Regions from separate parts of the Homo sapiens genome. Here region 2 is linked to region 1. Evidence: fine-mapped expression QTL. A gene starts in region 1. The other region holds a variant in brackets. All regions are shown on one strand. Distances are from middle to middle. Region 1 holds the start of PIK3C2B (phosphatidylinositol-4-phosphate 3-kinase catalytic subunit type 2 beta). Region 2 overlaps PIK3C2B (phosphatidylinositol-4-phosphate 3-kinase catalytic subunit type 2 beta).

Region 1 (14,728 bases):
TTTATGTGCATTCTGCTTTGGATTATCCCTACTAGTGACTAGAATAAAAATAATAGCTTTTATTTGTATAGGTATTTATAGCTACAAAGCACTTTTATAGACATTAGCCCACTAATCTTAAGAATAATGCTGGCCATGGTGGCTCACGCCTGTAATCCCAGCACTTTGGGAGGTCGAGGCGGGCGGATCACCAGAGGTCGGGAATTCCAGATCAGCCTGGCTAACATGGTGAAACCCTGTCTCTACTAAATATATAAAGTTAGCTGGGCATGGTGATGCGCGCCAGTAATCCCAGCTACTCAGGAGGCTGAGGCAGGAGAATCACTTGAACCCGGGAGGTGGAGGTTGCAGTGAGCTGGGATAGTGCCACTGCACTCCAGCCTGGGTGACAGAGTGAGACTCAGTCTCAAAAAAAAAAAAAAAAAGAAAACAAAACACAACAAAAAAAAAACGAATAAAGATGGCTGGGCACGGTGGCTCATGCCTGTAATTCCAGCATTTTGGGAGGCTGAGGCAGATGGATCACCTGAGGTAGGGAGTTCAAGACTGGCCTGGCCAACATGGTGAAACCTCATCTCTACAAAAATACAAAAAGTAGCCGGGCATGAAGGCAGGTGCCTGTAATCCCAGCTACTTGGGAGGCAGAGGTGGGAGAATCGCCTGATCCTGGAGGACAGAGGTTGCAATGACCCGAGATTGCGCCATTGCACTCCAGCCTGGACGACTGAGGGAGATTCCATCTCAAAAAAAGATTACCTCTTATTTATTTATTAACACAGTTACCAACACAACTTTTAAGTAACATCCTTCATTTTTTGTTTGGTTTTTTGTTTGTTTTTGAGATGGAGTCTCGCTCTGCTGCCCAGGCTGGAGTTCAGTGGCACAATCTCCGCTCACTGCAATCTCCACCTCCTGGATTCAAGCAATTATCCTGCCTCAGCCTCCAGAGTAGCTGGGATTACAGGCACATGCCACCAGGCCCAGTTAATCTTTGTATTTTCAGTAGAGACAGGGTTTCATTATGTTAGCCAGGCTGGTCTTGAACTCCTGACCTCAGGTGATTCACCCTTCTCAGCCTCCCAAAGTGCTGGTACAGGCGTGAGCCACTGCGCCCAGCCTCTATGTTTGTTTTTTAAAGAGACAGGGTTTCACTCTGTTGCCCAGGCTGGAGTGCAGTGGTGCAATCATAGCTTACTGTAACCTCAAACTCCCCAGGTCAAGTGATCCTCCCACCTCAGCCTCTCAAGTAGCTAGGACTACAGGTGCACACCACCATGTCTGGCTAATTTTTAAATTTTTGTATAGATAAATCTCGTTCCATTGCTCAAGATGAACATTCTTACTTTTATCATTTCAACATGTATCTACAAACATCTCATTACATACAAAACATTCTTTTCCACTAAGCCTTTAAACCGCATGGATTACCTCGTATTTATCTTTGTCTCCCCCAGGATACTTAGCACAATGTTTTACACGAAGTACATGCTCCAGTACAGAACTGTTAATACTGTGTTCTCAGCGTGGTCTGACCAACCCAGAGGAGAAGAGTTAACAGCTCCTCATCATAGGATCAGAGGTTTGGAGGCTGTTTGAAGGCAAAATTGTAATGTATTTTTCCAAGTAGACACCCCACAGCATTTATCAGATTCTTAAGTTTAGAGATCTCCAAAATAATAAACACCACAGTTCTAGTTTCTATAATCTCTAGGAAATGCTGCCTAAGACTATATATTAAGACGCTGGGAAATGCTGCCTAAGACTGTATATATATAACTCTTGGGGCACCTTATCACAATCGATTCATATTGAGCTTATAGGATTACCCCACTCCATGAAGAAACTCATCCATTTACCTGCATTTTGGGTGGGAGGGGGGTGCAATGTGGTTCCCTCAAGGTCAGGGACCACACTCAATTCAAGGTTGTATTCCTAGAATTTAGCACAAACCTGCTATTGAGGAATAATAATTACAAGAACCATGAGCTGTTGAGTCACCATTTACATGCATCAGGCACTGCTCTAAGTAGTTCATTAATTAACTCATTTCATTTTACAACAAATTTTGTCTGGTATTATTATTTCCCTCATCTTACGTATGAGGAAAGTGATGCACAGATAAGTTAAATAACTTTTCCAAGGTCATACAGCTTGTAAGTGGTGGAGCCAGGCTTTGAACCCAAGTAATCTGGCTCCAAAGCCGTGCTCTTAACCATCTGCCGAACTTGCACTGCCAGTCATTTGATAAATGAGTGAATAAATGTAAGAATGAATGAGAAGAGGCACTGAAGATGTTTTTGCTGAATGAACAATCAACCAATCATTAACCCACCTTTTGTCTCTACCCTGTATAATCTATAGGATTATCATGAGAGTCCTTCTCAAACTTTCCTTGCATTCAACTAGAGAATCTCTCCAAGTAATTCCCTATCTATCAGTATAGAATTCCTGTCAGTAACATTAAAAAGCTTGGTTTAATTCTTAGTGAACTACTCTTAGTGGACTAAGAACTATGAGTGAACTAAGTTTTCTCAGAACACCAAGCACTAGGCAAGGGTTTTACCTGTCCTCTTCACTGCTGTGCACGTAGAAGAGTGTCAGTGCACATTCAATGTACAATGGTGGAATGAATGCCCAAAAGATAAAATGCAAACTCCTTCAGTGGCTCTGGCGAGATTAAACTGCTTTCAGTTCACCTCATTCACCACACTCCATTCCCCATCCTGCCCCAATTCCTACTCATTGTTCAGATCTCTGCAAACACTTAATTTCCTCCAAGAAGTCTGACCATCAAAAAGGCCCCACTGATGAGTTCACAAGGCAACCCATATTTCCCCCACTCAATGACTTAAAAGTACCTAAAGTCACTAGTAAACAATCAAGATGTTAGTCAAATTAATGAATAAATGAATGAGTTCCTTTTTAACATGATCTGATAGACTTAAACCCTTGTGATCCTATTGTCTTCCAGAAATGACTTTAAGAACCACTTGTGTCATTACTGGCTCTTGGGGAAGCTCCATCTCATTCAGGACTCGAGCCTCATGAACATTTTTTTTCTCACAGTCCCCTTCAGCATAGCACAGAAGGAACACAGGTTCTAGAGGTTTCCTGACCTAGACTCAAATTTTGGCTCCTCTCAAGTTAATTGTACAAGCTCTTTATTATTATTATTATTTTCAGAGACAGGGTCTCACTCTGTCACCCAGGCTACAGTGAAACCTGGATGCAATCAGAGTGGTGCAATTATAGCTCACTGCAGCCTCAAACTCCTGGGCTCAAAAGATCCTCCCACTTCAGCCTCCTGAGTAGCTGAGACCACAAGTGTGCGCCATCACACCCTAATTGTTTTTATTTTTATTTTTAGTAGAGACAAGGTCTTGCTATGTTGCCCAGGCTGGTCTCAAACTCCTTGGCTCAAGTGATCATCCCATGTCAGTCTCCCAAGTGCTGAGATTACAGCATAAGCCACTATTCCTGGCCCCTATCTTTTAATTTAAAAAAAAAAAAAAATCTGCCTCCTTAAAGTCTAGAGTGAAAATCTAATATCTCTGGCTACAATGTTCCTCTCCCAGGATCCCAAAACAACCCATTTGCAAACCACCTCCCTTTTCTTGGTGAGAATTAAATCCACTCTACTGGTGCTCGCAGTCACAGCAATTTCTTTCACTCTCTGGGAGACACACAGCATGGCGAGTCAGGAATGGGACAAACACTCTGCTTTCAGAAAATGAGGGCTCTTAGGGAGACGTCAATAGTTGAAGGGCTCCATCATTACTACTATCTGGGCTTTGCTTAGTTTATTACCTGAGACAAAAAGAACTCATACCTGATTCTTCTACCTGGCAAGGCAAACTGTAGTTTTTCCTCAAAATGGAATCCTTTTGGCCCTCTACTCTTCTTCCCTCATCCTTATAACTTACGGTTTGCTGCAAAGGACGCCATCTAGTATGAGAGAAAGAGAGAAAGATGTGGCTGGAGAGAATGCTTCCACTCAAGCTTCTTCCTGGTGGGCTTGGCTTAGCGAGGCTTGAGGAATGAGCCACGTGTGTGAAACAACTCTCTAATATTAGGCACCCACCTCTATGGTGGAACAGTGGCAGGAGTGACACAGTCATGATGGAAGGATAACAGTTTCCAAAGAGGCAAACAATCTTTGGCTTCTCTGAAATACTGTGAAGCCTCTGCTAGGTGAGACTTCCTACAGAGAGTTCTCAGGAAGAGGAAGGAGTGAATTGCTAAGGCTTCCTTCAGCCACAGGTCTTATTTCTGCTTCAGGACTACAGTGAACCTCTCTCTTCTTCCTTCTCTATACCCTGAGGGCCTCTGCTCCCCAAAGCACAAATGTCTTCTGATTCTTTAGTCTCCTTAACCAGGGTGATGATTTGGGGTGAGTGAATTCCATCCCAATGTCCCAGTGTTTTGGGGAAGTAAATTTCCCAAAGACAAAGCCACTAATTGGGTCGGCACGAAACTCCAAAGTGTTGCAGGATAGGTCCTTTCACGGGTCATGTTGTGATCTGCGGGGTAGGCGTTCAGTTCCAGCATTGCTACTAACTGCATGACCTTGAGAAAGTCACTTTTTCTCAGGGAAGTGATGGCCCAGGTCCTTTCCAGTTTTGATACTCTATGTGATCTTACAAAATGCAAGAACAAGCTGGGAGAGGTGGCTCATGCCCGTAATCCCAACACTTTGGGAGGCCGAGGTGGGAGGATCACTTGAGACCAGAAGTTCGAGATCAGTCTAGGCAACATAGTGAAATCCTGTCTCAACAGAAAAAGAAAAAAAAAAAAGGCAAGAATAGTCCCTCAAGTTTCATTTTATAAAACAGATGCAAAATAAAGCAGATATGAAAATACCAAAACAAGAAATCTGCCTTAATTTCCCCAGGATCCTCCAAGTCCCAAACCTTCTATTAGTGTTGCTCAGAAGGCAGCAATATGACTTGATCAGATTATCCCACATCTCTTCCTTCCTTGGAAGGTAGACATAGAAATAAAAATGCATAGAAAAGCAGATGAGGCCCAGAAAAATTTATTATGCCTACATGCCCATGAGATGTCCCAGGCTGGTGACGTCTCATGGGCATTCAAGGAATCCATTAAGAATGAATTCTGAGGCTGGACATGGTGACTCACACCTGTAATCCTGGCCCTTTGGGAGGCTGAGGCAGGTGGATCACCTGAGGTCAGGAGTTCGAGACCAGCCTGGCCAACATGGTGAAACCCTGTCTCTACTAAAAATACAAAAAATTAGCCAGGCATGGTGGCACACGCCTATAATCCCAGCTACTCGGGAGGCTGAAGCACAAGAATCCCTTGAACCTGGGAGACGGAGGTTGCAGGGAGCTGAGATGACACCACTGCACTCCAGTCTGGGTGACAGGGTGAGACTCTGTCTCAAAAAAAAAAAATGAATTCTGAGGCTGGACATAGTGGCTCATGCCTATAATCCTAACCCTTTGGGAGGCCAAGGCAGGAGGTTCCTTTGAGGCCAGGAGTTTGAGACCAGCCTGGGCAACATACTGAGACCCCATCTCTACAAAAACTTAAAAAATTAGCCACATGTAGTGGTGCATGCCTATAGTCCAAGCTACTCAGGGTGGGGACTGAGGTCGAAGGATCACTTGAGCCCACTGCACTCCAGCCTAGGCAACAGGGAGAGACCCTGTCTCAAGAACAAACAAAAAGAATGAACTCCACAATTTTGCTGTCCCTTTCTGTTCTCCCAAGACCCAATATCTCTCTGAGTAGCACTGAGGCTATGAACACAGGGTAAGGAGTGAGACTGCTTGCTTCAAATCCCACCTCTATCATTTACTAGCTGGCTGACATCAGTGAGTGTTAGTGATTACATTACTTGCCAGCTCAGCATTATCCTCTCTATAGGCAGTAGCCAGCCTTTGGAAGGTGTTTATCCCTCCTCAATTCCTACAAATATCATGAGGCATCCTTTCCTTCTCTCCCAGTTCCCATCCTGCCAACACTATTTAAAGAAAAATACCCAAGGAATACAGCAGTTACCTTGGTATTGTCACACTACTCTTTCCTTAGCAAGAAAGAAAAGGTCCCAAAACATTCCCTACTCCATGTGGCCCTCAGATCCCACCCTATCCCCATCCCTCACAGATCTCCCTCCCTTATGTGGGAGGCTAAACCCAGTAAGAATAATCATTTGTAAAGTACTCTGTAGTTTTCAGGGTACTTTTGCACACATGATTCTGTTTAGTTCTTGGTAAGCAGCATTTCATTATTAATCCTGTGAGCCATGGCTACTCCCCCACCTCCATTTTACAAATATACAAACTAAATCTTAGGTCCACAAATTGTCTGTGCTCACATAGCTAAAAAGAAAGTCACACCAAGACACTGTTTTCTCTACTACTTCACATTATGATGTCCAAGTTCACATCCTGGGAACATGAGGAGCCTGAACCTTATAGCTAGTTACAAGCCCCTAAAAGGAACAGAGACCTCATTTTTCTACCCACTGGTCCAGGCCAGGGCCATCCCAGCTGAAGCACCACAGACATGATATAGATGCAAAGCACCAGGCACAGGAGGAGTGGGGACACCACCAAGCGGGGACCAAAGGCCCACGAGGGTATAGAGTATCTGCCAGAGCATACTAGGTCATGACAAAGACCAAAGGCATTCCAGACCACCAAGGAAGTCCAAAGGAGCTCCCCCAGAAACAGCCCAAGTCCCCAGATAAACTGACCCTTCCTCACCCAGCACACCCCCTTGGCCCTTTCTCACTCATGCTTCCAGTGGAGAAGGAAATAGACAAGCAGCCGGGTCTGAGAGCTTGATCAGATTCAGCCATACACACTCAGCAGTAAGCTCAGAGCCATGGCAATCAAACCTCAGGCTCACCCAAAGGCCAAAGGAGAAGCAGCCACAGCCTGGGTCTAGGGCTCCAGCTCAGAGCCACCATCTCTTCAGATGCTGGCTGCCAAGCAGAGCTATAAAATGTGCCTCGACTTAATTTTTCCATGGACACAACCTCAAGATGGGCCAGCCAGACTCTGGAGGAGCTGGGATTCCAAAGTCTCACTGCCTGTCTGCTCTGGGATCGGCAGCTGGAGTTGGGGAGAGGGAAGTATTTGGGGGTCGGCATTGCCACCTCCTGGGCCATTTCTCTTCCTAATATCTTCCCAAAGCCTGATGCAGCAACAGAGTAAGTTTTCATTCAGCACTGATTCAGGGTTGGAATTTAGTACAAATTGCTTACATCTGCCTGGCCATATCCCAAATAGGTAGTTTAGAGCAAGGAGGAGGGGCAGCATTGGCCCACTTCTTGGAGCCCGGGTAGCCGCCTGCTAAAGAATCTGGTGCCATGCTGGGACCAGCCAGCCCAGGGTACAAAACTCTCCAACAGAGTTGAGAAAAAACAGCCCAAGAGAGCTGCCAGAGACAATACAGCGATTCCATCCCAGGCATGATTGGAAGGGCTGGGGCAGGGAAGCTACGAAGACCCCAGAAGCGGGTGGAGAGGAGAAAAGGCAGGCCTGAAGGAGCAAGAGCAATGGCAGAAAACACACACACACACACACACACACACACACTTCAACATCAGCCAACTAGGGTGTGTGCACTAACCTCATACATTTGGTAACCTCTTCCCACAATCCAGAAGCCTGCCAAGCCCCTGGGCTCCCCACCCTACTCCACCCCACACCAGCTTGGCAGCCTTGCTTGTGCTTCCTGCTGCGATTGCTCCTCCAACATCAAAGTCACCGCTGTCGGGAGCTGAAAATGAGGGACAAGTATAGGCCAGGAGAGCAGCGCCTTCTCCCAGCACCGGCGAACTCAGGCCTGAGGGTCCCTCTCCCTCTTTCAAGCTTTCAGTCTCCTTTTGCTGCAGTATCCTTATAAGGGAGAATCCAATTCTACCCTCCGCCCGACTAAGAAACGTACACATTCCCCAGGCTAGATGCCGACTTCTCACCCAGTCCACAGAAGGCACTAACCCCATCACAGGACAGGTTTTGCTTTTTTTATTTCTTATCTTAAATAAACAAACCCCAAAGCCATTGACTGGTTCAGATCGCCCTGCAGCTGGGAGCCAGGAAGTGTGTTTAGCGAGAAGGGGGTGGGGACGCGGGTGCCTGGAGCCCCAGAGGCCCTGAAGCTGCTGGAGTGGAGTGGAGTGGGGTGAGGGGCAACCTGCTCTGCCCGGCGGGCAGGAGCTCAGGCTCCCACGGCGTCCGCCGCTCAGCCCGCCGCCAGGAACCCTCGGCTGCTTCCATTGTTGCACCTCCGCTGTTGCCATGTTGGAGGGAGAGCCCCCTGACCTCGGCTGCCTCCACTCTGGGGGCACTTTACAGACGCTGGGGCCGATGCAACCCGCAGGATGCGTGTCCTACCTGCGCTAGCTGCTGGCTCTGCTGCAACATCCGACGTGTCTTGTGCCTGGCGACGTGGGCTGCTCGCTCCGCGCCTCCCGGGCTCGCTCTGCGGCTCCAGGCGCCTCTTGCACCAGCGCGAGAGGAGCTGGCCGGCCGCACGCCGCCTGCTCCCGGGCCGCTCCCCTCTCCAGGCTCCGCACAGACCCTAGGCTCCAAGGGGCAGAGGGAGAGGCAGCAAAGGGCGCAAGGACCAGCTTGTGGGGGTGGGGAGGGGTGCTCTCCGCCGAGAGCGTGCGCGAGCTCGCAGAGTCAGGCCACCCCGGGTGAGACAATAGCGGCAGCAGCGGGCGAGAGAGGGGAAGCCATCTCCCGGACACCCGGCGCACTGCACGGCGACGCGACGCTCGGCCAGACCCTGCCTGGACAGGCAGGCACCCGGCCGCCGGCTCCAGCCGCAGCGCCGAATCCGCCGCGAGCCGGAGGGCGGGGCGGCTGCTGGAACCCGGGCCGCCCTTCGCCTCTCCCCTCCCCTTCCCCCTCCTCTTCTCTTCTCCTCTCCTCCTCTCCCCTCCGACTCCCGCCCCACTTGCCATTGCGTGGGGGAAGAGAAACGCGCTGGCGTCAAGTTGTGCTCTGCAACCCAAGAGCCAGGATTTCCACTCCCCACTTGGGTGAGGGTTTTTGCGGATGGTCGTTAGTTTCCCCTGCTGGAACCCCTTGGCTTTGGGTCAGAGGAAAGCTCAATCATTCTGCTAGAAATGACGGTGCTGAGGTCCAGTTATCCGTTTCAGGAATTTCTACCATAATTACGGTAGCGATGTTCGGGGGATCCCCTACCTTGAGGGTTAGGTTGGGGTAGAGAGAGGCTGTCTCCGGGCTTTACACGCTCAGTGTCATTCGTCTTTCTGTCTCCTTCCTTCCTCCCTTTCTGGAAGGGGAGTCTCGTTTGTTTTTGTATTCGCCCAGGTGGATCTTCCGAGCTGCGATCCAGGAAACAGCAGTCAACCTAAGTAGGGAGGGGAGATAGAGGATCCTCCAACCCAACTAGGGTAGTGAGAAAAAAAAGTAAAAAAAAAAAACCTTTCATACAATATGTTATATTTAAATTTTCTACTCTAAATACCTTTCTTCCAGCAGTGGTCTCTGGAAGAATTTTCCTAAAGGCTCCACCCAAAAGAAACCATGAGTTGGCCAGCTCCTCGTTTGCATTTGGTTTGCATAGTACCAACGATCACTAATCTCAAAGTATATTTTCCTAAAAACGTGAATCGTGTTTTCCTCCACTGCCCTCATTTCTTCTTTCTTTCTCGACAGACTATGAAGATTAACACCTGGTCCTCAGCCTCTCAAGTAAAACCATGATTAAATAAATTTGTTATGCTTTTCTCTGGTTAACTTGTCTTTTGTTATAGAAGTGTCGGCTGTGACTCTTATGATGGGGAGGAAAGGGATCACTCCCCTTTCTGATCCTACAGTGCCTTCTGTACCCAATGCTTGTGACTTTCAGTATTCCACTTCACCCTCTGAATATCAAGAATAGCGTCCTCACCTATCACGCTTTCGTAATGATCAAAGGAGAGAATGTAGGTGAAACATCTTGATAATTAACTGAAGGCAGCTTGGTCTGCACATATGTCATAATGTATATGATGCTACTCCTGATCTCAGGAGCCACAGGGGTTAAAAAACGTGTCCGTGCACTTCTTCACCATACAAATATTTATGACAGCTTACTCTGTGTCTGTCATCAGGTCAAGCTCAGGAGCCTGAGAGAACAGAGTGTTACAGGGGCCACTGGTGGTTCTTTTTTTTTTTTTTTTTTTTGAGACGGAGTCTTGCTCTGTCGCCCAGGCTGGAGTGCAGTGGCGTGATCTCGGCTCGCTGCAAGCTCTGCCTCCCGGGTTCACGCCATTCTTCTGGCCCAGCCTCCGGAGTAGCTGGGACTACAGGCGCCCGCCACTATGCCCAGCTAATTTTTTCTTTTTTTTTTTTTTTTTTTTTGTATTTTTAGTAGAGACAGGGTTTCACCGTGTTAGCCAGGATGGTCTCGATCTCCTGACCTTGTGTTCCACCCACCTCGGCCTCCCAAAGTGCTGGGATTACAGGCGTGAGCCACCGCGCCCGGCGACCACTGGTGGTTCTATGCTGCTGGGGTGAAAAGTCTGAAGGAAAGAACTAACAGGAAGTAGGCATAGGTAGCTGAGTGGAGGATCAGATCACAGGCTTTATCATGCATTTTGGTAAGGAAAAAATTGAATAAAGAGAAACCAGGGCATGCCAAAAAGTTTAGGTGCTGTAGGTGACAGAGAACCTGCTGTGCACAAATGGAACTGGGAAGTAGTGTGACCAGAAAAAGACTTCCTGGCATATTATAGAGAAGGATTTGGAAGATGCACTGCATGTCTTCCGTTTGCCCCTCCAGATCTTCCTGGCCCTCTGGCTTCCTAGACTGGGTTGGCCAATGGGGGCCATGGCTGAAGATTGAATAAGGAGGGAGGTCAGGGGAAACTGGATATTTATTCTTCAGGATTCCTCTCTTTGGGGTCACAGTGCGCTGGCTGCCACCCTCAACCAAAGATCACAGCTTCCACGGGTGGTTCTCTCTCCCCTCCCTCTCTCTTTTGTTTTTCTTTTTTTCTTTTTCTTGAGACCGAGTCTCACTCTATTGCCCAGGCTGGAGTGCAGTGGCTTACTGCAACCTCTGCCTCCCGGGTGCAAGCGATTCTCCTGCCTCAGCCTCCTGAGTAGCTGGGACTACAGGCGCATGCCACCATGCCCGGCCAAATTTTTTTTGTATTTTTAGTAGAGACAGGGTTTCACTTTGTTAGCCAGGATGGTCTCAATCTCCTGACCTCATGATCCACCCTCCTCAGCCTCCCAAAGTGCTGGGATTACAGGCGTGAGCCACAGTGCCAGCCCCCTCCCTCTCTCTTGATTCAGGTAATCACTCCCCTCCTTTGACTTTTCGGGCCTGGGGGTGGAAACATTGATTTGCTACTGGCCCTAGTAGATTGTACACTATTTCTTGTGGTTTTCCTGTACTCCGCCGACCCTTTATAAATTGTCCCCTTATTTTTTAACCTCTCCTCAAATTACCCCTCAAGTGCAGTGTGCCATTTGCTTTCTGCCAGGACCTAGTAACACAAGTCAGGAGTGCAGCCTGGGAGCTCAACAGAGAAACCATGGCTACGTTCCAGGTGGGAAATCAGGGAATCTCAAAACTGTGCCAGAGCTGTGGCAGTGGGGATGAAAAAAACGGAGCAGATACAAAAGATACTTATAAAGAGAAATCAATAGTATTTGATAAATATATAAAATGTAGGAAATTAGGGAAGAGGAGGACTCTGGAATTACTCCCCATTTGAAGCCTTAGAAATTGTTGGCAGGTGGTACCATTCCCTAAGTTAGGGACAATTAGAAAGACAGGGCCCAGGTGTTGGCAGAGGGATCTTGAGCTTAATTTTGAACATGTTGGGTTTGAGGTATCTGTGGAATGTCTAGATGGGGATGTCTAGTAGACAGCAAACTTATGAAACTAAACTCATATTGGGGTGTGAACAAGTGATAGCAGCTTTGGATTCTGTAGGTTATGGGTAGTCAGTGAAGTTATAAGCCTGTATGAGGTCGTCCAGATGGGCATAAGGAGGAAAGAAGAAACAACCAGAGAGGTAAGAGAAAAACTGGAGGCCACAGAGTGTCAGAAACTAGGGTGGGAGAATCTCAGAAGAGAATGACTGGATAACCAGTGCAGCAGGAACCTCCAGGAGGGTAGGCTAGAAAATGCCTCCAGTGGATTCTAGGCCTAATTCATTCCCTGATTCAAAGCTGGTGCTCAATAAATTATTGGTCACTAAGTGAATGAATGAACCTGGATCTGGAATAAAAGACACATGCTTTTTCTAGAAGCTTGGCAATTTAAGACAAGGAGAAATATAAGGCAGTGGGTAGAGGGGAATGCAGGATCAAAGGGGAGACTTTTGTTTTTTCTTTTTAGGATAAGAAAGGCTTAAGCATTTTCATATGCTGAAGAGTAAGACCAAGGAGAGCGAGATCATGAATAGGAGGGAGTTGGGACCCAGGTATATGGGGTGGAGCTGCCTCTGATATCTTTGAGAGGAAGGCTGTACAAAAGCAGAGGCATCTGTAGACTGGTAAAGAGACTAGAACTTGAGACTAGATGTTGAGAGGACTAGTTGCTGCCTTGTAGTCTCTAAGCAATCTGCTGAGAGAGAAAGGCTCAAGATGAGGTTAAAGGCTTAAAGAAAGTGGTTAAGGTTGCTGGGCACGGTGGCTCACGCCTATAATCCCAGAACTTTGGGAGGCCGAGGTGGACGCATCACCTAAGGTCGGGAGTTCCAGACTAGCCTGACCAACATGGAGAAACCCCGTCTCTACTAAAGATACAAAAATAGCTGGGCGTGGTGGCGCATGCCTGTAATACCAGCTACTCGGGAAGCTAAGGCAGGAGAATCGCTTGAACCAGGGAGGCAGAGGTTGCGGTGAGCCGAGATCGCGCCATTGTACTCCAGGCTGGGCAACAAGAGTGAAACTCCATCTCAAAAAAAAAAAGTGGTTAAGGTTAAAATAGAAAGGAATAAGGAATGAGAGTGGTAGCTCCAGAGAGAGGAGAGAGAGAGAGAATTGTCAGCAGAGTTGAAGATACAGCTGGCATTGGATACTCTAATATGTTGTGGCTATGAATAAAAACATCCGAATGTTTTCATCATTTTCTTCTGCAGCACTTGGAAGCCCAGGTGTAGAACATGAGGTCAGGTTTCCAAGATAGGTACAGTAGAGGCATAAAAGGAAAAGAGGGCTCCTGACAAAAGAGGAAGTCCTCAAGGACGGAAGTGAAGCTCAGCAAAGGCTGTGAATCTTCAAGAAGCGGGAGGAAAGGGACTGAGCTACCTCTAATCTTATTCCCCTTCCAATCTTTTCTCAAGTAACCCAGCCAGGGTGATGTTTCCAAAGCAAACATCTGCTTCTCCTGCTTAAAATCAACTAACATGTAGGACATGGCATTTTTTGACTTTGGTTTTTAAACATCTGTATTCTCAGAGCCTAGAACAATGCCTGGCACTTGTGCTCACAAAATTTTTGGCAGATGAATTAATGCATGACTTTCTCTAACTCTTAAAGTCCAATCTCCTAAGGAAACTCTGAATTCTCTCACAGTCAGCCCTTGCTTTTCATTCTAGCCTCAGAGAACAAGGACTTTGTCTTGTGCATCCCTGCATCTCCCAAACTGCACCCACCACATAGTATTCAATAAATATGTATTGAATGAATAGCCTCCCACATTCCAATGTAAACTTCATACTTGGGCCTTACGAAACTCCCTACAGTTCCTAGAATGCACAATATTCTCACCTAACGGCCCTTCCACATGGTTTCCTGGAAAGGGCCTCCTACCTCCAATCCCCACCTCTACCCGCTTCCTTTTATGCAGCTGTCTCTCTACATGGTAGGCAGAATAATGGCCTCCCAAAGGAGGAAATGTCCACTTCCTAATCCCTGGAACCTATGGCTGCATTATTTTACAAGGCAAAAGGATTTTACGGATGTGATTAAGTTAAGGCCCTTGGGAGTGGAAGATTAGCCTGGATTATCCAGGTGGGCCCAATCTAATTACGTCAGTCCTTAAAAGCTGCAAACCTTTCCTAGCCGAAGTCAGGGAGAGATGTGATGACGCAAGACTGGTTGGAAAAATGCAACATTGCTGGCTTGAAAGTTGAAGCATGGAGGTCCTGAGCTGGAGGGGGTGAATGGCCTCTAGAAACTGGAAAGGTCAAAAAACAGATCCTGCCCTAGAGCCTCCAGGAAGGAACATGACCCTGCAGATACTTGATTTTAGCCCAGTGAACCCCATGTTGGGCTTTTGATCTGCAGAACTGTAGGATAATAAATTTGTGTTCCTTTAATCCACTAAATTTGTGGTCATTTGTTATAGCAGCAATAACAAACTAATACATCCTACAACAAATTCTCTGCAAAGTTTCCCTAGAGTGCCTCCTAAGAGTGTCTAGACACACCCAATAGCTACTTGGATTATAACACTGATCATGGGTGTTATATATAATTGCTTGTCCACTTTTTTCTGAATTGGGGAGGGGACAGAAGAGGAGGGCAACGGACTGTAAGCGCCTTAAAGACAAGGAATCTCCATTATTTTTACCTTTGAATTTCTAGGCCTAATTCATTGCCTCATTCAAAGCTGGTGCTCAATAAATTCTTGGTCAATAAGTGAATGGATGAAAACCTGGATCTAGTTTACAGGAAGACAGAGTGACTGAGCCAGAAAATGAAAAGCTTGAGAGTCTAAGATTTCAGTGGTGACCGGGTGTGATGGCTCATGCCTGTAACCCTGGCACTATGGG
Region 2 (14,728 bases), 35 kb before region 1:
TCCACCGCTGTCCTCCAGAGGAATCTCCACCTAAGTGAGGCACTCCCTCCAGCCCACCACAGACTGGCAGAGCCCTGCTCTGTCCCAGCTGCCTCTACCCTGGGGGCCCACAGCTATAATTAGGGCCCCTCCAGCAGCCAGCAGACATGCCAGGCCAGGGCTTGGCTGGAGGTGACAAAGCACGGCTGCTGAGCCTATTTTGAGAGTTAGCTGATCCCTGGACCGCTACAGTGGGGCAGAGAATCAGCTGACCCCATAGCAAAGGGGAGAGGGAGCTGGTCCTGAGCCCTTTCTTTTCACCCAAGGAAGAAGCTTCCAGCTTCGTGTCTTAAGGAAAAGGGGAGTGAGAAGACTTTATGAGTGAAACCAGAGCCAGCCAAGGCCCTCTTCCCTTCAGTCCTTGGGTATATCTGGTATTCCACAACCTCTCCCACAGATCTTCACCCAGGGCTGGTCAGGATAACCATTATGTTGGCTGCAGCCCTTACCTTCCTCCCTGAGAAGCCCCTCTCCTTCCTGCAGCCCATTCAACAACCTCATATCACACAGGCTGCCTCCTCCAGGAAGGATTCCTGGAATGTGCTGGTTGGCTCCAGTCCCGGTTCTGCCACTCACAATCCTGGGCAACTTAATTCCCATCTCTGTGCCTCAGTTTCTCATCAGGGAAAAGGGGAACATAGCTTCACTTGCATGATGTGTGTGCAGACTGTGTACTTTTTGCTATGTGATGCTGTGGTTACTGCACTGGCACTGGCTTATACAGATAGTATTTTCATGCGCACGTATCCCCATGTATCAGCCAGTCTGTCAGTCACTTGGAACAGAGAAACCAAAACCAAGAGGGCTCCCCAGCTAAGAAGCCTGTGCCAAGTACTTTATTTACAGTGTCCTAACTGCTCCTCAAACAATCCTGTAGGGTAGGCCCTATTATCGCTACCATTCTAGGTTGAAAGACCTGCCCCAGGCTGCAACTACAGTAGGAAGGAGAGAATGACTGGCCCAAAGACTGTCCTCTGAACGCTGGCACGCCTTCCCCCAAATGTCCTGGTCTTGACCATGAAGGGCCAAGAAGTCTCATTCGGGGCTTCTGGATGGACAGTGCAAGATAGTGCCCTTCACAAGGCGCTAGGCAGGGGACTGCCCCTTTAAAATTCAAGGTGGGGATCTCAGGGAACAAAATGAAACTCATGGGGCAGGCTGGGCTGCCTCTCTACCTCTGATACTGTATGAGTAAAGGGTTTAAGGCCAATTTTTTAAAGTTCCTCCTGGGCCAGAACACTGTGCAGCACCCTTTTTTTTTTTTTTTTTTTTTTTTTGAGACAGGGTCTCGCTCTGTTGCCGAGGCTGGATACTCACTGCAGCCTTGACCTCCCAGGCTCAAGTGATTCTCCCACCTCAGCCTCCTAAGTAGCTGGAACCACAGGTGTATGCCACCACACTTGGCTAATTTTTTGTATTTTTTGTAGAGATTGGGTCTCCCTTGTTGCCCAGGCTGGCACCCCTTCTCTTGACAGCAGCAGTAATTGTGACCAAAAAATCCCAAGGGAATGGTGGAACTCAAGGGCCATTTAATGCAGCTATCCTCTGCCTGCAAGGAGTTTCTCCTGTCCTGGCAGTTGTTTGCTTGAGGACCTTTAATGCACACCCCATGTCCTTTTTTTTTTTTTTTTTTTTTAAGATAGGGTCTCACTCTGTTGCCCAGGCTATAGTGCAGTGGTGTGATCATGGCTCACTGCAGCCTCGACCTCCCAGGCTCAAGTGACTCTCCCACCTCAGCCTCTTAAGTAGCTAGGACTACAGATGCACGCCACCACACTCAGCTCATTTAAAATAATTTTTTAGTAGAGATAAGGCCTCTTTGTGTTGCCCAGGCTGGTCTCAAATTCCTGATCTCAAGTGATTATCCCGCCTTGTCCTCCCAAAGTACGGTGAGACTACAGGTGTGAGCCATCGTGCCCAGCCATATACACCTTTATTGCTCTAAGAATTACCTAAGTGTGAAGGGCATGAGAAAGGGTCCATTTTCCCAGTTGTCCATCTGTAAAAGGACCCACCTCTTCCAGCATCTCCAGATTCTTCATCTACCTATTTTGCATCCTCGGCCTCCCCAGGACCCTCCTCAGTCTCTTTAATCTGTGCTACAAATACTTAGCTTGCAGTGCTGCTCTGCAAATGAGGACTCTAATATAGTCAGTGTGGGGAAGCAAAGCCGGGGGCAGCAAACAGGGGATTTTCTGACTGACTGGAAGGAAGGTAGAGCATAGCACAGATGAAGCACAGGGCAGGAAAACCCCTGCGGTGCCCCCATTCAAGCAAGGCACCCTCTCCTCCGTTTCCTTCCTGCTTTGCTTGGCTGACGCCTACCTTCCCGACACCAAATTATTGTTTACATGTGGTGATTAATATTACCTTGTGCTTTTGGTTTCATATTTATATTTATAACCCACCTATCTCATCTCGACGCCATAACTGCCTCTGAGTGAAACCAATGTCCCCATTTCTCAGTTTGAAAAAATGAGGCACAGAAAGAATAGAGAGAAAGTAGTATTCGAGACAGAGCTAGAAATAGAGGCTCACTCCTGGGAATCCAAGCTCAATATTCTTTCTCTAGACAACCCTCCCTTCTCTATATATAAAGGGAAAAGCACAGTCTCCTCTCCATAGTCTACAGGAACTGAGGGAAGAAGGGAGAGGATGAGAAGCCCTCCAACTAGTTAAACTCTTTAAGGGAGACAAGATCAAAAAATAAAGTATTATTAAAATTAACAACTAACATTTAATTTTTTTTTTTTTGAGACAGAATTTCGCTCTTGTTGCCCAGGCTGGAGTGCAATGGCACGATCTCAGCTCACTACAACCTCCACCTCCCGGGTTCAAGCGATTCTCCTGCCTCAGCCTCCCTAGTAGCTGGGATTACAGGCATGCGCCACCATGCCCGGCTATTTTGTATTTTTTTTAGTAGAGACGAGGTTTCTCCATGTTGGTCAGGCTGGTCTTGAACTCCCTGCCTCAGGTGATCCGCCCGCCTCGGCCTCCCAAAGCGCTGGGATTACAAGCGTAAGCCACCGCGCCTGGTCAACAACTAAAATTTATATGTTTTTTATGGTTTACAAAGAGCCTTTATAGATACTTCTCATTGGATCCTCATGACAACTTGAGAAGTGGTAATTATACTTGGCTCCTTTAAGAGTCAGGGAAGTGGAGGCCAGGCGTGGTGGCTCACGCCTGTAATCCCAGCACTCTGGGAGGCCGAGGCGGGCAGATCACGAGGTCAGGAGATCGAGACTATCCTAGCTAACACATGGAAACCCCATCTCTGCTAAAAATACAAAAAATTAGCTGGGCGTGGTGGCGGGCGCCTGTAGTCCCAGCTACTCGGGAGGCTGAGACAGAAGAATGGCGTGAACCCAGGAGGCAGAGCTTGCAGTGAGCCGAGATCGCACCACTGCACTCCAGCTTGGGCAACAAAGCGAGGCTGCCTCTCAAAAAAAAAAAAAAAAAAAGAGTCAGGGAAGTGGAGACTCAAGAGGTTGAATGACTTGTCCAGTTAGGGTTAACAAGGAGCCTGGTTTTATCATTAGTCCTGGACTAGTTATCTGGCCCCAGGGATATTTCAGAGGCTGAGCAGGTCTACAGTGGCCTGGGCACTGAAGCCTGGGGGAAGGGCTTACTGCTGGTCCCAGACGATGAGGTGGAAGAGGTACTTGGAGAAGTGAGCTCTTCGGGTCTGCAGGGGGCTGCACAGCTCCTTGCCGCCATGGCTGAGGGAGCAGGAGAGGTAGAAATCTTCATAGCTATAAAAGAAAGGGAGCAGGTCAGGACACCCAGCTCCCAAAACCAATCACCCAAACCTATGCGTCCCTCTAAGGCCAAAATCCATTTCCCCTGGTAAAACTCTCAGTCTCTGAGGGCTGTAACACAGGATCTCCGGATAGGACAGCCAAACTGGATGTAAGGAAATGTGCTCAGGCCAAAGCAACTCAATCTAGATTCCTCTGCTCGGTTTTAGGCTCCATTCTGAGCCTTGTTGTTTTTCTTCCTTTAATGGGAACTGGCCACCCAGCCTCTTTATAGAAAGCTCCAGCCCATGGAGCGTCTGTGTGTGCGTGCGTGTGTG[C/T]GCGTGCACGTGCATGCGCAAGTGAGAAGGGTGGGGGAGGAAGACGACATATGCCGACATGAATGCCAACACACGGGGGTCCCTGTGGCTCATGACAGGTGCCTGACAGAAGAGGTCAGAGAAGGCCCCGGTTTCCCAGGCTGCCTCCTTTGTTCTCTGCCAATCGCCCAGAGGAATACATTAAGTAAGGAACAAAGAGAGAAGGGGAAGGGGGTTGGGGAAAGGGGACCGGCAGGGGCGGGGTAGGGCCCAGTGCCTATTCCCTCAGGCCTTGGATGCTGGGGACCCAACAGAGGCGCTGAGGATTTTACCAAAAGAACATCCTCCTCCACCCACCCCTGCAGGCCTAGAGAACCCCAGACAAAGGGTCAATCCCACCTCCCCACCCCCTCCCACTGGCCAGGGAGCGTGCACTCTATCTGGGAATCGGCCATCTGTTGCCATGTCTCCTTCCACTGGTCTTGGATCTGGAGGGGGCAGGGATGCAGAGGCAGCCAGCACCAAGAGGGAATAACAGGATCTTCTTCATCTCCTAAGGGACCTCCTCTCTCCTCTAGGATGTCCCCAGCCCAAGTCCTCCTCAGGCACTTGGCTCACCCCCGCAGCCCCATTGCACCACAATGTCACACAATGCCACACATCCTAAGACTTAGGACAGTGGTATTACATGCAGATAGGAAAAAGCCCTGGTGGAGGTCAAACTCAGCTTGCTCCCTAGCGGCTACTCAGCCCTGGGCTCACCTGGTAGCCCAGATGATGGGGATGCGGTGGGTGGCATAGACAGTGAAGGCCAGGGACCTGGCGAAATGGCAGGCCTCCTGGACCAGGTCATGCTTGCGGCTCCCGGGCACTGCCGTCTGGAAGTCTGCGTTGAATGTGTTGCAGTACAGCTCCACCAGGTCCAAGATGGCAGCGGTCAGGGCTTCCACGACCTTCTCTGGGAAGGGAAGGGGTCAGAAGGGAAAGTCATGAGGCCTCCACAAGCCCTACCTTGTTGCCATGGCATTGGCTAGAATGGGATGGCCTAAGACAGTGGTCCCCAAATGCTAGTCAGTCTCTAATAGCTGTGACAAAGTTCACCCATCTGCGGTAAAATGAGAAAAAAGCAGAAGCATGTCATGAGCTTTTCATAAAATGACAGTTATACAATGTTAAACATAATCCTTATTTTTACGTATTGCTACTTAGCATTAAAATGTCCTTTCTTTTAGGAAACAGTGTTAATAATTATTGTCAGTTGCTTCAAAAAAGCAAAAGTCAAAAAAGTTTGGCCAAGTAAAAGGCTGCCAATTCTCTCTTGGTCCCCCAAATACTTTGGGGGACATTTTACTGGTCTATGAAATCCAAAAGACTGGGAATCACCATAAGAATCCCAGGGATGCCAAAACAAAAAACAAAACCAAAACAAAGGAATCCCAGGGATATAGGTCAGTCTTAGGGCAAAGTTCAGCTTGAAGGGCACAACAGGGGAATCCTAGAAAAATCGTAGGGAAAATTCTTTCTCATCCTCTCCCAAGGCCCACTCTAAATCGGAAAGGTAGCAAGTGTGAGCTGTTGGGAGAATAATCACAATCTACCCAAGTGGGAGGCTTCCCATCTGGATCACAGGGCTAGTGCTGCCCCACCACCCCACTCCCACACTTCTACCCCCTCATCATCATCTCCCAGGGACACCAGGAGGAATGACTAGGAAAAATAATAAGAAAACACTTTGTGGAAAGAAATGTGCTCTCCAGCTGTATCCACACCTCATATAGGAACACACACACACACACACACACACACACACACACCCACACACACACACACACCAGCCGAACTCCGACACATAAATCAAGGGGCCCAGGCAGAAAAAGGAATCGGGGCAGAGACTGCAGTTTTCGGCAGCCCGACTGGATGAAGATGGAGAGCAGTTCCCTTACCTCGGTTTTCCCTCACAGCCAAGACACTGGGATCCTGTTGGGAAAAAGAAGAGGGAGGGGAGCTTCAGGGCCATAGCCTTTTTCGTCACAGCTGGAAGAAGGGCTTTTCACAGCTGCGCTCATCTGGACCAGAATGGGCTGAAATGTGAGTAGCTGAGAATCCCCAGAGAGGAGAGAGTAATGGTTTGTACCAGATCTGTATGATGGACAGAGTGAGCTGACGGAGGATAGCAATCATCGGGTCCACCCTTCTGAGATATCCCAACCCTCAGGCTACTCGGCTGCAGATCACAGTGCCTATGGTGCTGGCCCTGTCTGCAGAGCACACAGCCCCTGCTGGAGTCCTGGAGCCCCTGGCTCTAGAGAGATTTTCCTCCTGGTTTGTTTTTGCACCCTGATGGATATGCAGACTGTCAGGCAATGCCTTGGTGACTGTGAATAAAGCCTTTACTGGCCTGGGCTCTCAACAAGCAGTCCCAGGTAGCTCTCCCTCAACCTCAGGAAGAGGAGACACACTTGGCATCCATTTCTGAAGAGCTCTTGCGGTTGAATTCCTTAAACATAAAAGATGGAGGTGGAGAGAAGCCCCTTTTTAGTGAGTGAACACCTACACACTCTAGCAACAGGCAACTCAGTTACCTGACAGTATCCCTCTCTTCCTTTCCCCTGCTAGCACCCTGGGCCCCTTTACCTTCTGAATTTTAGGCTGCATGCGGGAGGGGCAGGGGGGCAGCTGGTTGAGAGCACTGGTGATCTCAGGGGTTTCCACGGCGGCCAGGGCGTTGCAGATGGCCTTGACGGACTGGACCACCCTGTCAGCCTTCAGTGGGAAGTCTCCCTGTGGGAGGTGGCACAGTGAGGCTGGCAGGCTCTGCTCTCATGCTCTTGGTCTCCAACCCCTCCCCACCCCAGTCTTTAAAGGAAAGGGTTGGGAAGAGTAGAGAGATTCATGATCCTCAGGGGTAAATGTGCAATACATTTTATTTTCAAATATTCATCATCAGCAAATAATCTCTCCCACTGAATTCAATGGGCCATGCCCACATGCCCCAATTCTTTCAGCCGTTCCCCTTGAAGCTCCTCCTATCTCTAGCCTCTCTCTATAGTTAGTCTACTTATACTATACACATATATACAGGGTCTCTCCCAGAGACCTGTAGAATTTCCAGACAGATCTCATCTCATTTCTACAGACATGCCACAGCCATAACCTCCCCTCTGGAATTATGCTCCTGGAATTCCCTCACCTGTCCAGCTCTGATTACCTATGTACATTTAAATCACAGAGCAGCTAAAATTCTACCTCCTGCATAAAGCCCTCCCTGGCCAATCCCCTTCCTCTAGCATCCTCCAGGAGCCCTTAATTAATTTATTACCATCCTGTTCTGTCTACTAATAGCTTTGTGTTACTATTCAATTTTTCTAACAAGAACACAAGCTCCCCAAAGGCTATGACAATTTTTTTTTTTTTTTTTGAGACGGAGTCTTGCTCTGTCACCCAGGCTAGAGTGCAATGGCGCGATCTCGGCTCACTGCAACCTCTGCCTCCCGGGTTCAAGCAATTCTCTTGCTTCAGCCTCCTGAATAGCTGGGATTACAGGCGCCTGCAACCACACCCAGTTAATTTTTGTATTTTTAGTAGAGATGGGGCTTCACCATGTTGGCCAGGCTGGTCTCGAACTCCTGACCTCAGGTGACCCGCCCACCTCAGCCTCCCAAAGTGCTGGGATTACAGGCGTGAGCCACCGCACCTGGCCAAGGCTATGACGATTCTTACACTTCTCTACCCATCGTAGCCACTAGCAAAGGGCCAGAACAGCACAGCACAGGTGTTCAGAGAGCTTCCCCCGCATCACTGGAAATGTTCAAGCACAGGCTGCTGGAGAAGGGATTCTGGCAGTGACTAGACATAATGCTGAACCCCTCAAAAAGGAAGCGTTTATGACTACTATTAACTGGATCAATGAGACAGGGATTGGTTTTTGTTTTGTTTTTTGAGATAGGGTCTCACTCTGTCACGCAGGCTGGAGTGCAATGGTGTGATCATAGCTCACTACACAGCCCCAAACTCCTGGGCTCAAGCGATCCTCCCACCTCAGCCTCCAGAGTAGCTGGGGCTACAGGTGTGTGCCACCATACCTGGCTAACTTTTGTATTTTTTGTAGAGATGGGGTCTTGCTGTGTTGCCCAGGCTGGCCTTGAACTTTGGGGTTCAAGCAATTCTCCCACCTCAGTTTCCCAAAGGGTTAGGATTACAGGCGTGGGCCATCACACTCAGCAAGGGATTATTTTTGAAGATCACTGTCAGATTTTCTTTGGCGTTGTGACATTTAAGACAAATGTTGACTCTCATGGTTTTGAGGCTTGAGACTCCGCATGAATCCAAGTGGGGAGGGCTCTGGCCCTCCCTACATGTGAAACCTTCTACCTCCTGATGGTTTCCTACCTGCGATAACAGCAAAACAGAACCTCTCAAACTGGAGGTTTCTGACATTGCTCATAGGATGCATGCTCCAGTGTACATCAAGTGCAGCAGCTGGGGGGTGACAGCTCTAGGTTCCTTAGCTCTGGAGACATCCTATTCCAGAGAATGGGACCAGCATGCAGTTTCCGACCTGCTTCTTCTATAGAGGAGCAGAATCCCTGACTACGCACTTGCCGTTGCCCAACATCTAGTAGTCTTAGTTTGCCCATGAGCGAGGGGTTAAAAAGAAGTGCTCTGCCAACAGATTTTCAGGCTCCACCCAGACCCCTCATAGTGCTGGGTGATCCCAGGAGGACTGAGGAAGGGGAGAGGAGGAGCTTTCGGGCAGCAGGGCCAGCCCCTGGATTCGTACTCACATCAGCCAGCAGGAAGGCATCCACCTCATTGTGGTAAGTGTCGAACAGAAGACTCAGGGCCTGCCTGGGAGTTGGGGGCAGGGAAAAACCACAGGAGAGGTCATGAAAGACCCAGTGCCCTGGGAAACCCATTTTCTCCCTCCCTCTCCTCAGCTCACACTCTGATTTAAAGGAGTTCCCACTCTTTCTATATGTCCTGTGAAGACATATAGAGGGAGAGTCTTTCTATTCTGCCACTTCTCGCCTGGAGAGAATGATGGCAAAGTTCCAGAGGGAAGAAATGAAACATGCCTGGAGTGGGGATCTTCTCTGATAAGATGTGTGGGCCCCAACCCCTGACACCTGCAAGAATCCCTTAGCCCTGACAGAAAGGCAAGCAGGCACATCTGATGGGATCCCTGCACAGTTCTTGTTTGGAGCACATCCAAGATGGTGCCCACACTCACCTGCTGATGGTCTGCTTGACAGGCCTCTCTTGGAGATGGACGAGGTAGTTCAAGGTGGAGGGGCTCTGGTCATCATTCACCTGTATAAGAAGTGACCTATTCAGAGAGGGGCGGTGCCCTTATCTCAGCTCAGCACTCCTACCCCCCTCCCACCTGATGTGTTCTATATTGTATTCCCATTCCACCTCCCCAGCCCTGGGCAACCCTCCACCACCCTCACACGAACCGTCCGGGCCAGGTCACTGCGCACAACCTTCTGCTCCATCAGCTGTAGCCGAATGTCAATGTCAAACTTGCGGCAGTATTGGATGTACTCATGACTGCCCAAGGCATGCTTGCTGGTAGGGTAGAGGGACAAGACCATTAGCATCCTGGGGACTCAGTGGCAAGGGAGATACATACCTTAGCCTTGGGGAGAGACATACAGAAAGAAGGTTTAGGTAAGGGGGTAGTACCCGTGTTGTACCCTACTTTGGCTCCTAGAAAATGACACGGTAGAGCTTAGGAGAAGGAACAGAGGTCTATCTAAACAAAAGCCACCTAATATACTTAATCCTTGGCCGGTATAAATATTGACTCTCTTAGATATTTATTACCCGTGTGGTAATCACTGGTTCACTCCAGGGCTGGGAACTGTTGGAGAGAGCGGGGAAACAGAGGCACATCACAGGGAGCAGTTGCTGAAGCCCTATCTTCTGGGCCTCTGTATAGGGGACAACCAGGAAGAGACATGTTGGAGTCCACCTGTGCTCAGGCTCCAGGGTGGGAGCTCAGCGAGAGACCCCTCTTCCAATGCTACCAACTAGGGTGCTGAGGCCAAAAAAACTTGGGGCAAGCCTACCAAGCCTCCAGATCAGTGTCCCCACCCAACTTCTTTTTCTGCCTTCCATCTGTTGGCCCTGCCTGCTTGTGAATAACCTTACAAATTTCTATGACTTCTTGAAAAGTCCCAAATGCATGCCAGTCCCACCTGCTCAAGCACCCATGTGTGAGACTCCCCCTTTCAGAGAGAAGGCCTAGGAGCCCTCGGCGATCCAACCTCTTCCTCTCTCCCAAATCACACCTTCAACAGCAAGGAAACCCAAGAGGAGGGGCAGAGGGAGAACTACCTCCAGGCCAGCACTGCAGGCCTGGGCCTGGCCTCAGCAGCTGGGTAACAGAAGCCGGAAAAGGACTTCCTTCCTCAGCAGAGCTGGGAATCTAGGCCAGAAATGGAGAGGAGAGGACAGGAGCATAAGGGGGGCAGTATATGTAAAAGCTGGCGGAGGTGCAGGGCCCAGGGTCGTCTAGGTCCCATGAGGGCTCGAGTGAGGGGTTCTCCACATCCTGAGAGGACCAAATCTCCGATCTAGACCCTCTCAGATCTAAGACTGAAGTGCAGCCAAAACCTGGAGGTGGTGAGGCTGGGCTGTGGGGCTGGGCCTGGTGGGAGAGCCTGGGAGGAAGGAAGAGTGTGGTGGGGCTGGGGGAGGTGGCAGGAAACCCAACCCTCCCACGGGACTGCCTCAAGGTTCTTATCTGAGAGCAGCCTGCATCCTGAACCCACTCACCCCCTCAGTATCAGCCCCTCCTGCCAGGCAGGGGTAGAAAATCTCAGGGCTTCCTTGGGAACTAGCAGATTTCTGGAACCCCCGGAGCGTCCTTTCCACCCCCATCCCAGGCAGTTGTCATGTGTTGGGGGTCTGGGGGCTGGGCCAGGAGACAGCATTGTGCTTTTCTGTTGGGTGGGAGTGGGGCTCCTAGGCCAGGAGTCATGCACACAGGTCCCCTGGGGACTTGCTTGATCTTCTCTGTGGAAGGCCTTCCTCTCTGTGCATTCAAGTGAGAGTATGAGGGGTGTGATCTGAGGACCGCTGACCCTGTCCCACCTCACTAAGAATATTTCACCTGAGTCTTAGCAGGAAGGTAGAACTTGACAGCTCCCACTACCTCCGGACCCAGGGGCTCCAGGATTTGGGGTGCTGCAAGGGAAATGGCAGTATCTGTGCAGCCCAGAGCCCTAGGACTTCTCTCCGTGGGCTGCTCCTTCCCTGCTGGTATTTACTGATTGCTCACAGGTCATTCTCACATTTCACCCTCACTGCAGCTTACAGAGGGCCCTGAGCATCAATCAGCCTTCACAACTAGTAAGTGGCAAGTCCGAATTCAAACCTGTGTAATGGCGTCAGCAGGAGCTCCAACTTATCCACTATGTCCCCTTTTTCCCTTCTAACAGTGGCAGGCCACCTGGCACTCTCTCTGCCAGGCAACCCTGAGTCTAGGACCCCTCCTGTTCCTCTAGGGGAAAAGTGTGTACATAAGTGAGTTTAAAGGTGGGGCACATTTGAAGGGTACCCTGGAGTTGTACCATACAGAACCCTGCCTCTTTCCTTTCCCTTAGCTTCGAGATGAGGAGGCAGAGGCCAGAAAGGACCCCACAATATCCTTAAATTTGAAATAAGCCCAGATAGCTGGGCACAGTGGCTCACACCTGTAATCCCAGCACTTTGGGAGGCCAAGGCGGGCAGATCACCCGAGGTCAGGAGTTCGAGACCAGCCTGGCCAACATGGTGAAACCCAGTCTCTATTAAAAAATACAAAAATTAGCCGGGCGTGGTGGTGCTTATGCCTGTAATCCCAGCTACTCAGGAGGCTGAGGCATGAGAATCGCTTGAGCCTGGGAGACGGAGGTTGCAGTGAGCTGAGTGAGATGGCGCCACAGCACTCCAGCCTGCACGACAGAGTGAGACTCTGTCTCAAAAAAAGAAAGAAGTCCAGAAATGAATCTTCCATCCTGACTGCCAAATCTTATGCTCTAGACATAGATCAACCATCCTTGCATCTAGACCTGAATGTAAGAGAGAGAAAAAGCAAGCAGTGGCACTTATAGGGCACTCCTAAGAAGTGAGACACAGGTCTCTCCTTTCTCTATTCCCAAAACGTGCTTCCTCCAAGTGGACAGAGACTGGGGGCAGGAGCGGCTCTGAAGCCTAAGAGAGGAAAGCAGATCTTATCTGTCTGCTGTCACACAGCTGTACCATCTGAGAAGTGATAACCTTGCCCCTGCCTCTCTTCCACTGCAGCCCTCCAGAGCCCAGGGTAGTGGAAAGGGGGTTGCCTCAGCTGGTCCACATCAGACTTTCCAGGGAGGCTGCTTTCCAGAGAGGGCACTGGATGGAGAGGAGCTGGAGGCACGCCTTTGGGAGGAGGATAACTAGCTGCACGGGCCAGCTGGGGAAAAGACTTGTTGGCAGGAGAATGGGGAGAGACAGTAATTGTAATTTCTCCCCTGGGCTCCACAAGGGAACTTCTGCCCAGTCCTCATTTTGCCCCAGCCATAAAAACACCACACATAATCTAGAGCAGGAGATACAGCACTACCCATATAGTCTCCCCAAGCCCACCCCTCCCCACAAATACACACATCTCTCCATAAGCAGAATCTGCAAGCAGATATGACCTAGTCTTTGCCTAATCCCAGCTCCAAGCTCTTTCCACAGCAGACTTGGCTCAGGACGTCAGCCAACCCTGCTGGAAGACAGAGCTCCTGGGGAAAGTGCTACGTGGCCGAGAGTGTGCCCAGAAAGCAGGAGTCTTGACTGTGGGATTGGGGCGGAGCTGCCAGGCCGGTCCCAGCACCAATCCCATGAAGCCCCCTCACAATCTTACTACCAGGAAGGCAGGGGCTACCTCCCACCCATTCACTCACTTCTGCAGGAACTCCTCCAGCCCGCAGGGCTTTAGCACAAAGTCACCCACGTCCACATTCCTCAGGTCATCATGGGTGTAGCACAGGGTCTGGTAGATAAGCAAGTCTACAGTGGAGGAACCTGTGAAGGGTAAGGTAGGGGGAGCAATCATGATGGATGTCAAGGCAGATGGGTCTCAGTTTCCCCACCCTGATCCCCCTTTCCAGCTAAGTATTCTCCAGCACCATCACCAACCAGATAAAGCAGGCAAGTAGTTCAGAGTTGAGGAAAGTGACTGTACTAGAATGCTGGCCCCATAGCCAGCCCCTCACCCCCAAAGGAGCATCCTCACTGCCCTTCATCTGGGCCACAAGATGAGGTGGAAATCGAGTCAAAACACAGTCATCCCCACCCCACTTCAAGGGATGCTCACATCCTCTCCCCCCTCACTAACTTACAGTTGCAGGTGAAAGTGAGTGCCTCTTGAAGCCTGTCACACAACACAGTCACCTTCAGGTTGACCTCATCCCCGAGGTGCTCTGGGCTAGGGGTGACAGCACTCCAGACATAGCCAGTGAGGAAGTAGTCTTGGATGTCAGAGCCAGATCGAAGGCTGTACAGGAAGAAAAAAAACCCTCACTGTGCCTTTAGAAGAGAGTAGTCAAGAAGACATCTGTTGGGAACCTCATGCTCTGAGGCTCAAGAGCCCCTCTGTCCCCACTCAGCCCAGCCCTCCAAATTTGCAGGCCAGGATGGGGGCAGTGGGGTAGCAGCTCTGAGAAACCCCCTTCTTGACACTTCTCTTATAATTGCAAAATGTTTCCCACCATTGAACAGTACAAATAGTTCTAAAATGACAAAGCTTTCCATGCTAAGTTTAATGGAAAATTTTTTATGAATCCATTTCCTTTCTCTTTTAGTTCCAGATAACACTCTTATCGCCAGCTGGGGTGCATTTGCTCTTAAGGGCAACTGAGGGTCAGACTCTAGAGTGATCAGGATACTTTGACCATTCAATGGAGGTTTCATGAATTTTGCTAAAAATGTGAGACTTCTAAGATTTCAAAAACCCTGCAGACACTTGTTGTAGGAAGCATTTTCATAGCTATGAACTGAGATTTACTTATTATGGTGCTTCTTCCCTCCTAAAGAAAGTTTGGAAATGGATGGCCCCCCTCCCCATCCCCCATAGCCCTCCCAAATCCCACCCCATTCTTTAACTCTTACATATCCAGCATGTGGCAAAATGCAGCAACCTCCTCATCTCTCTCTTCTGAGACCTCAAACAACTCATGGCCATTGGCAACAGTGTGGGGCCGGGAGCCCACCTTTAAGAGAAGAGCAGACGACTCAGTGCCTTTTTCCTCGTGGTGTCCCCTCCCTATGAGGTACTCCAGACCTAAACTCAAACTCTAGATGAAAAGACTTTCTAGTCACTCGACATCCAATGAAAGGGGCACAAGAACATATGGGACATCCGGGAATACATGTATCTGCTGTCCTAGGAGACCAGGAGCCAAGTTGAAGAAGGAGGCGAAGCTCTGGCTGAGATGGACAAGAGTGTGGCCAAAGCCACTTCAGGAGGGGACAGTCTGATAAGCGTGAGGCAGCCAGTAAGGCAATCCAGTGCTGTTGGGCCTCTCCTGCAACACGGGCTTTCCGGGGGATTCTCCCAGAGGCGTGACAGGGAGCAGAGCAGACAGCTGTTTTTCCCAGCCCCTCTACTGAGGCTAG

Evidence for each region. PIP is the estimated chance that this variant, and not a neighbour inherited with it, causes the effect.
Region 2: its variant is fine-mapped to the expression of PIK3C2B in whole blood (TOPMed, PIP above 0.99).

Annotation. Positions count from the first base shown.
Region 1 is chr1:204,485,987-204,500,714 of GRCh38, forward strand. It overlaps PIK3C2B (phosphatidylinositol-4-phosphate 3-kinase catalytic subunit type 2 beta), which reads right to left and starts at 8,819. Exons shown (of 33, transcript NM_001377334.1): 1 at 8,370-8,819. It overlaps LOC124904584 (translation initiation factor IF-2), which reads left to right and starts at 5,765. Exons shown (of 2, transcript XM_047439554.1): 1 at 5,765-5,775; 2 at 8,190-9,746. The coding sequence starts at 5,765. The coding sequence ends at 9,210. RefSeq lists silencers at 6,860-6,939, 8,499-8,968 and enhancers at 8,009-8,198, 8,269-8,398.
Region 2 is chr1:204,450,998-204,465,725 of GRCh38, forward strand. PIK3C2B (phosphatidylinositol-4-phosphate 3-kinase catalytic subunit type 2 beta) reads right to left here. Exons shown (of 33, transcript NM_001377334.1): 3 at 14,222-14,322; 4 at 13,453-13,607; 5 at 13,015-13,135; 6 at 9,553-9,664; 7 at 9,327-9,406; 8 at 8,881-8,944; 9 at 6,731-6,877; 10 at 6,040-6,073; 11 at 4,859-5,054; 12 at 3,672-3,794. Among named protein-coding and RNA genes, the nearest start is that of PIK3C2B, 36 kb to the right of the region's middle. RefSeq lists enhancers at 2,131-2,240, 3,833-4,810, 6,318-6,819, 6,820-7,319 and silencers at 6,190-6,390, 11,204-11,498. The variant C/T (reference allele first, on the strand shown) is at 4,118.